2 linked regions of the Homo sapiens genome follow. The protein of the gene in region 2 interacts with the protein of the main gene of each other region in a pairwise test. Each region holds a gene or a part of one and is shown on either strand. Other genes may lie near its edges.

The links. Proteins that work in one complex are often made in the same cells at the same time.
Region 1: the proteins of TRIP11 (region 2) and DSCAM interact in a two-hybrid assay, tested with the Homo sapiens proteins (one large-scale study listed by BioGRID and IntAct).

What each region holds. Positions count from the first base shown.
Region 1 is NC_000021.9:40,836,368-40,841,665, forward strand, and holds part of DSCAM (cell adhesion molecule DSCAM isoform CHD2-42 precursor), read right to left. Parts: intron 1-5,298. UniProt on the Homo sapiens protein: Cell adhesion molecule that plays a role in neuronal self-avoidance. Promotes repulsion between specific neuronal processes of either the same cell or the same subtype of cells.
Region 2 is NC_000014.9:92,012,560-92,016,059, reverse strand, and holds part of TRIP11 (thyroid receptor-interacting protein 11), read left to right. Parts: intron 1-198; coding exon 199-364; intron 365-1,482; coding exon 1,483-1,845; intron 1,846-3,500.

The DNA of each region.
Region 1 (5,298 bases), on a different chromosome or scaffold from region 2:
GAGATAGATATTAATACACACAGATGATTCGTAAGCTGCTAGCATCCACATTGGGAGTGCCTCTGGCAGGATCTACATACCCCTCTACTCAGAATCTTTCTTGTTACTAAACCCCAGCACCAATTATCCCGAAAGATGCCCAAATTCTTATGGTGGTCAGTGAAGACCTAACCCTGTATACAGACATTCCCAATAAATTACTACCCAATACAGAGTTCTCCAACAGTTCATCGAGATGTACTTGGAACTTTACTGGATCAACTTCCTAGCTACTGTTTGGGTAGCTTCTTTGCAAGTGTGTGTTTTGCAAAGGTGAATTATGGTTCATGTGGATCAGAACAGGCAAAGGCATGCGTTAATAATGCAAATTCACAGGTCGTGCATACACCAAGGCTACAGAATCAGACTCTCTGGTATCAGAGCTGGAAGACGACATAACAAACATGGAAACCATAACTTGGGAGACCCCAGTGGTGGTGGGAAAAACAAGACAAAGTCACATGGGATTAGAAACACCTGGGGAGCTTTCCAAACTACAGCCCATTCCCCACAACGCTGGCATCAGAATTTCCAACAGGAGGCTAATGAGAGGAAATGCATTTCAGGAAACTTCCATATCTCCTTTCTCTGTTCTCCCTGACCCAGAACACCGGGGTGTTGAGAACCAGTGTCCTCGATCCTTACCTGGGAAGGCCCACATAGAAGGATACTAACTAATGTTCAGCTTGAAGTGTCAACAGACTGTGGTCTACCTCTTATCCTGATGTAAGGGTGGAGGGGATGTGTGGCTATGGGGCTGGCACAGCCTCTTCCTCCATATTCAGTGTTCCCATGAACATTTGCCTCCGCTGCCTCCAAGCATCTAATCCCACAGAAGCCTACAGCATATTCTATATTCTTACTCTCCCATCCTCAGCAATGGGGCGGTAGAGGTATGGGGGAGAGTGTGGGGCCCCTCGTGCCTGTGATTAATAAAGGCTGATGATGTGAGATCCCCCAAGACACAAATAAACCAACCACTGATGAGAGTTCCTTGCCCAAAACAAATACCTAGATCACCTCGAGGTCCACATTTTTCTACCCAGATTTCTATACAAATATTCAATGAAGCCTATTCTAAAACAGTAGCCACCAAGGATTTAATAGCTATTGATTTGGGTGAGTCATAACAGACACATCTGGTAATTAACCATCCTACCCACATTCTGCTGTCACGTTAAGGACCCGGATAGAGGTTGCTAACTTGGGCTGCCAACTTAAACAACTTGTGAAAGGAGGATTCTGTCTGTTAGACAGCATTCCACATTTCTTGTGCATTTCCTTTTCACTAGCCAACGAAATAGACAAGTGACTAGCCTTTGCAGGAACTGACAAGAACTAGATCCGGCAGGAGTGATAAAGTAGTCATGGTTCCCGTTTTGCTGGTAGAGGCCATTGTTGTCATTGTTGGGTGTCTTCAGCTCATTCCTAAAGTCTCACAGGTAATATTCCAAAGCATTGTTATTTCTACCCTGCAAGCTACATATCAGTTATTAAAAATGCTCTACAGCCGAGATTAAAAAATAAACATGGCAATTAAGCAGACTGGGACTTGGATTTTCTGTATCTCTATGGAACCCAAGATCAAATCACACCACAGCGGGGCTAACTGTGAAAAGAATTGAATCTTGAGTTTCTCTCGTGAGAAAGTATATTTCCTTAAAGTAATAAGTTTCCTTATTATATAGGAAATATAGCTGTCTTTTGTATTTAAAAAAATAAATTAAATTAAAATATACATAGAATTGCAGCAGTTCTAATTATCTTTCTACTTGTCTTTCTCTTATGATACAATCACAGAAATGTTCCCATCATCCAGCAGTTCATGCTTATGAGAAGAATCAATGCTTTACTCAATATTAGGAAGATTAATCAATGGTAAGAGAGTCCACTGCAATCACCCACCTGAAGTGGCATGGATGGCTCTTCAGTATACGGCATGGGCTACCTCCCAACAGCCCCCCTCAGCCCCTGTGACCCATTCACGCTGGTCCTAACACCAGCTTCTACCTGATCATTGTGGTGACTCCATGATAATGCTGAAGCCACTTTGGGACCCTCAGGTCATCAAGGTCAACACTGGGAGTGGTATCACCATACTGCTGTTTTGCAGAAGCATCCAATAATGAGAAAGTTGGGATATTTAGAAAGAACTATAAGCTGGCTTTTACTGTTTTATTTTCAGTGTGAAAAAAGTGTAAATTTTATGTAAAACCAGACTTAAAACTGTTTCCTGTTTCTTCATTTTAATACTAAAAGAGTCAAGGCTTGTATGAATCAAAATCAGTAATTAAATAGTTCAAATTTCTTTCCATCACCTTATCAAAATGCCAATTTCATAGTCTGGAGAGACTAGCGACAAAATGATCCATTTTATAGATGGTTCTTTATAAGACAAAAGGCAAACACTTTCCACAGCATCATCTTCTAGGGCAGGTCTGATTTTGTCCAGATTTCCAACCTGTAAATCAGCAGTATTTGCATAAAAATTCAACGATTCTACTATTAATAAAACCCAAAGCCCACTTGGAACCAGGAAAACCAGAATGCTATAAGTAACAAATACAGGCCTAGAAAGGAAAACTATTTCATTTCTTTTTTTATGCTAAATTGTATATACTTAAGGAACCTGGGGGACATTAGCTAAGTGATATATGCCAGACACACACATACAAAATCCATGATCTCACTTATATATGGAATCTTATAAAGACTATTTCATTTATAAGAGCATGTGGCATTCTTTTTCCCTTGTCCAATAACATTTGTGTCAATCACAAAGCCTGGGGTGATATTGTCTGCCCGACACAGACTGACAAATAAGGACTTCATATATTGCAATTTAAAACCCCAGAGTTTGAGAACAGGTTAACATGGAGGGACTTGTGATAATCACAGGATCCTAAATTTGAACTCTTCTCTCAGTAATTGCTTTATTACTGAGATGTATGCAGATTTCACCCTCCTACTATTCTGCCGTGAAACATCTTTAAGAAAGGCAAGGCTTATTGCAGAATAAATATTTGTAGCAGTGCTGCAAGTTCAATGTCCTCCCTTCACCTCCAGTCTTTTGTTCAGACCTACTCAAGCTGTTTCCAGATAATATATATATTGCCTTCTCATCCCCAGCTTCCCAAGCCTAACATAGACTTAAAGACTGAGAGCACTTCTAGAATATTCTGCAGAGAGTCCAAAGAGATTTCATAATATTTCTGCAAGGGTTGGTATGCTTTTTTTTTTGTTTTTTTCTCCTACAAAATGCTGTACAGAGCTGGGACGTTAGGGGAAGCTAGCATTTAGTATGGAGGTGATCTCTTGCATTTTCAATTCTTTCTTTCACTGTCTTTGCGGCTGCACTTAAAAACAGCTTTCTATAAATAGGACTGCTTGCTCACTCTTAAATCTTACTCACTGTCTTCTCAGTAAAAAAAATAACTAGGGATACAGGCAAGATTCATTAATCCCTGTCATTCTAACTCTCTGTGTAGTAGCCTCTTTCCTTCTTCATATCTTGACATATATCTTCTCAATCCCATTCATCCCTCTCTGTTAAACCATAATATGTATTTACATAATCCAGGGGGCTTCAAGATCAAAAATTAATCCAGTTGCATGATTTTTAAAAAATCAGCGTTGATCACATAGAACAAATAGAGATGTCCAAAAATCAAAAGCTGATAAATATTGTAAGCTATAAGACACTTAATTTGATTTTTATATTTGGACAAAAATCAACTTTAACAATGATTAAGATATCCTTTCATGTTACTTTGATGAAGATAGCAACTGTCATATTTGAATCTGCAAAATAAGAAATAAAGATAATGACAAAAAACCCATAAATCCATAGGATGCTGAAGAAAACAGTAGTATGACTTTTTAAAGATGAATTAAGGCCTGAGAAAGTAAGCTTTGTTTTGATGTCCTGGGTGGCTCTTTGATGAAGAAATGAATTCCCAAGAGCTGGGGGTGGCGGAGTGGGCGGGGAACCTAAATGTCGGTTTGATGTTTCTGGCTGGCTTTCAAAATGCGACAGGGCAATAAACACTGTATAGGAATTTTAAATCATGCCATTTAGCAGCGTACACTTGAGAACAAGGGGTCCAGCACATGGATGAAATTATTGTCTGTGACACTTGACCCACTGCACGGCAGGAAGAGCACCTAAAGCAATTACATAGCTGTTGTGCAACAGTGATGAAGTCCCATCAGATACTCGAAATATGAATCTCTTTTTGAAAAGAGAAGAAAATGCCCCAAGCCACAGGCGTTTCTGGAAAATAAACATTTCTACCGTGATTGAGTCACTACGACAGAAAAAGGTGGGTAGAGCAAAAGAGTCCAGTGGTTTAGTCAGAATGCAAGATAGGGACCAGGAGAGCAAGTCCAGGAAAGCAAACTAAGAGGGGGAGCCAATCAGCTAGAGGCAGAAGAGAGAGGTGGACGGGAGGGAGGAAGGTGGACAGGAGTTAAGGAGGGGAGAAAGGCTCTGCCTATCACTTTTTCCTTTCACTCCGTAAGGAACATCATCTATTTCCACTACTCCATACCATGTGCTCTGCTCTGTGCTAAGGACACGCTCAGGCTTCGCACGCATTTCAGACTATGGAGGCTCCTGTCTAGCTAGTGAGAGAGGCAGTCACTAGCCAAATCAGCATCACCTAAATGCAGGCGTAACGATTACCACAGACTCCATCAAGGAAACAGCCAAGATTTTTAGAAAAAGGATAATATGGAGGGAACTGATTTTCAGGAGCAGATTTGTGAAACCCAACCCTTCTGAACGTCCTGGTCAGAAGCTGTCTGACCTCTGAACCAAAATCCTGTCCCTGCTTCCCTCCTGCCACCTTGACAGACCTTGCGTCACCTGCAGAAAACATCCGTGTGCTCCACCCTTTGAATTCAGAACGACATAGTGGATACTCCGTGGGGCTGCTGGAATCTTCCATTCCCACTGCCTTATCTTAACCCATAGATTCGGCAAGGGAAATGCAACTTTGAATTTTCTGGCATTTTCACAACATTGAAGAAAAGAACATAAATATAGTTGGGGGGAGGGGCGCGGAGAGATAAGATGAGCATTTTTGTGCCCAGGTCTTTGGAACTTGAAGAGTTAACCCCCCAGTCCAGGGGAACAGGTGTTTTCCAGTGGGCCTGGGGGAGAGGGAAGGGGGCTCCCGGTCCCGGAGCCTTGCCTGCGGAGATTGATGGACTGCGGAGGAGCGGGCACGTCAGCATCACCCCTGTCACCATCAGCAG
Region 2 (3,500 bases):
GTTTTTGAGACCTAAGAAAGGAAAGGGTGAAGTTGTTCAGAATAGTCCTAATTTTGGGTCTGTGTTTAAATTCTTTTCAGCCTTAACATGTTCTGAGAATTCTTTTTAATAATGCACACTTTTGGACAACAGTTAAATATATAGCTTACATAAATTTATTGATTATAAATGTGAATAACTTTGTTTTTATTTTTTAAGGAACTAAAACAGAACCGAAGTCAGGAAATTGATGACCATCAACATGAAATGTCAGTACTGCAGAATGCACACCAACAGAAATTGACAGAAATAAGTCGACGACATCGAGAAGAATTAAGTGACTATGAAGAACGAATTGAAGAACTTGAAAATCTGTTACAACAAGGTTATTAGTTTTATTTCTTTATTATTATTATTTTTTTTGAGATGGAGTCTCCATCTGTTGCCCAGGCTGGAGTGCACTGGCGCGATCTCGGCTCACTGCAACCTCCGCCCCCCGGGTTCAAGCGATTCTCCTGCATCAGCCTCCCAAGTAGCTGGATTACAGGTGCCTGCCACCATGCCCAGCTAATTTTTGTATTTTTAGTAGCAATAGGGTTTCGCCATATTGGCCAGGCTGGTCCCAAACTCGTGATCTCGGGTGGTCCACCCACCTCGGCCTCCCAAAGTGCTAGGATTACAGGCATGAGCCACTGCACCTGGCCAGTTGATAGTTTTATTAATTTAACATATTAGATGACATAACTAAATGATAGACCTAGCATTCTAAGACCAGGACAGTGCTGTAAACTTGCCCTAAGTTATAAGGAAGTGTAAATGACTAGTTCTGCTTATCTGCCAGAAATTTGCAGTGGCACCTCTGCTTTTAAGATTCTGTGGCCGGGAGTGGTGGCTTATGGCTATAACCCCAGCATTTTGGGAGGCCAAGGTGTGTGGATCACTTGAGGCCAGGAGTTTGAGACCAGCCTGGCCAACATGGCGAAATCCCGTCTCTACTAAAAATACAAAAATTAGCTGGACGTGGTGGTGCTCGCCTGTGGTCCCAGCTACTCAGGAGGCTGAGGTGGGAGGATCACTTGAGCCCAGGAGGCAGAGGTTGCAGTGAGCCGAGATGGCACCACTGCCCTCCAGCCTGGGCAACAGAGTGAGACTCCATCTCAAAAAAAAAAAAAAAATTCTGTGAAAATGGAAATGTCCTTTTTACCTTTGTGGTAAATAGTTATAATTTATAGATTTCTTTGCATTGTTTGGTGATGATACTTTGGTAATAAATGATTAGAGATATTATCACTTTCTTTCAAACTAAGATACATAGGCCTTTATGTAGTTGATTCAAATATTTTCCCCCAACTTATTTATTTTAAAACACTTAGTTTATTATAGTAATTTAACTTTTAAGCTTTCCAAATTCTGAACTGTCTTATATCTCTTAGTTGTATATAGCAAACCGTTTATTTCTTGGTACTTGACATTTGATGTCATTGTTTTGTGTTTATGTTCTAGGTGGCTCTGGAGTTATAGAAACTGATCTCTCTAAAATCTATGAGATGCAAAAAACTATTCAAGTTCTACAAATAGAAAAAGTGGAGTCTACCAAAAAAATGGAACAACTTGAGGATAAAATAAAAGATATAAATAAAAAATTATCTTCTGCAGAAAATGACAGAGATATTTTGAGGAGAGAACAAGAACAGCTAAATGTGGAAAAGAGACAAATAATGGAAGAATGTGAAAACTTGAAATTGGAATGTAGTAAATTGCAGCCTTCTGCTGTGAAGCAAAGTGATACTATGACAGAAAAGGAAAGAATTCTTGCCCAGAGTGCATCAGTGGAAGAAGTGTTCAGACTACAACAAGCACTGTCTGGTATACAGTCTTTGGAACTTATTTCAGATTGCTGTTTCATTGCATAGTAGTTGTTTTTAGAGACAGATGCTTCACTAACTGAATACTTAGTGGAAATGGCATATTCCTGGAAATGACTGTGTGTCATTTGGGTAGAATTGTGTGGTTTGGATTCAGTGTAAGAGTTAATAGATTGCAAATAGGAATTTCCTATTAAAAAGGATTAGGTATTGCTATACTTTCTGTAACTCATCACAGCCCACATCCTCCAGTTAGGGAATACAGCCTTTCTTCTTCAAAGTCAGTTGTTACCTGTTTGAAACGATCTCCTATATCCAAGCAAAGCCCTGAGTGCTTAGAGCCATAGGTCTTCCACCATTTTCTATGCTCATGATGATATTTAGTTACTGTACCAGTATTCTGTGTTACAGAAAATTAGTACTAAATGAAATAGGCCAAACACCAGTAAATAAAATAAATTTTAAAGTAATTGTACTTACGTTTTAAAAAATAAGTTTACTTATTTAAAAAATAAATTTACTTACATAAGACTAATACATTTACTTACTTATCATATTGGGTGATCCAGATGAGTTTATGTGCTTAAAAGACAAACCCACTGCCTTAGTCCTTCCTCTTTTTTCTATTCCATTGACACAGAATTACTTCAGCCAGTCATAATTGCTTTTTGCCTATGTTAACTATGGCAGCTCTCTGAATGGAGCAGAATAGCGTAGTGGTTAAGGACATGACTGGGTTGGAATCGAGCTCTATCACTAATTAGCTGACCTTGGACAGGTTAACATCTCTATGCATTGGTTATTTCATCTATAGGGTTGGGATAATAATGGTATCTTCCTTGTAGTTTTAGTAATGAGGATTATATGAGTTACTTTCTGCCGCTCTTTAGGATAGTGTCTAGCCAATAGTAAATGTTGAAGAGTTAGCTTTTTTTTTGTTTGTTTTTTTGAGACAGAGTCTCGCTCTGTAGCTCAGACTGGAGTGCAGTGGCACGATCTCGGTTCACTGCAACCTCCACCTCCCGGGTTCAAGTGATGCTCCTCCCTCAGCCTCCCAAGTAGCTGGGACTACAAGCATGTGTCACCACGCCCAGCTAATTTTTGTATTTTTAGTAGAGACAGGGTTTCACCATGTTGGCCAGGATGATCTCGATCTCTTGACCTCATGATCTGCCCACCTTGGCCACCCAAAGTGCTGGGATTACAGGCGTGAGCCACCGCCCCCAGCTGAAGAGTTAGCTTTTAAAATTCTCTGTTCTCCATGATTCCTTCAATCTATTTTTTTCATTCTGCAGCCAGAATAATTTGTCAGAAATGCAAAGCAGGTTACTCCCCTGCATTTAGTACTTTATAGCTGCCTGTGAACTTCGGGATGATGTTTAAATTTCTTAGTTAGACATGATAATGTCTCTCATGATCTAGTTCCTGCCTATCTCTTCAGTTTCAACTATTCCCATGCTCCTGACATTCTAAACTTGAACCATATTGAATTTTCTATAGCTCCTTAAAGCAGCAATGTTACCTCTTCACTCTGTTACCCTTGCATTTTCTGCTTTCTCTGTGTGGAGTGTCTCTATGGCTCTTTTAGCCGACTCTCAGTATATTGATTCAGTGCAGGTATTAACCTCCACTGAGAAGTACCTAGCACTGCCACTT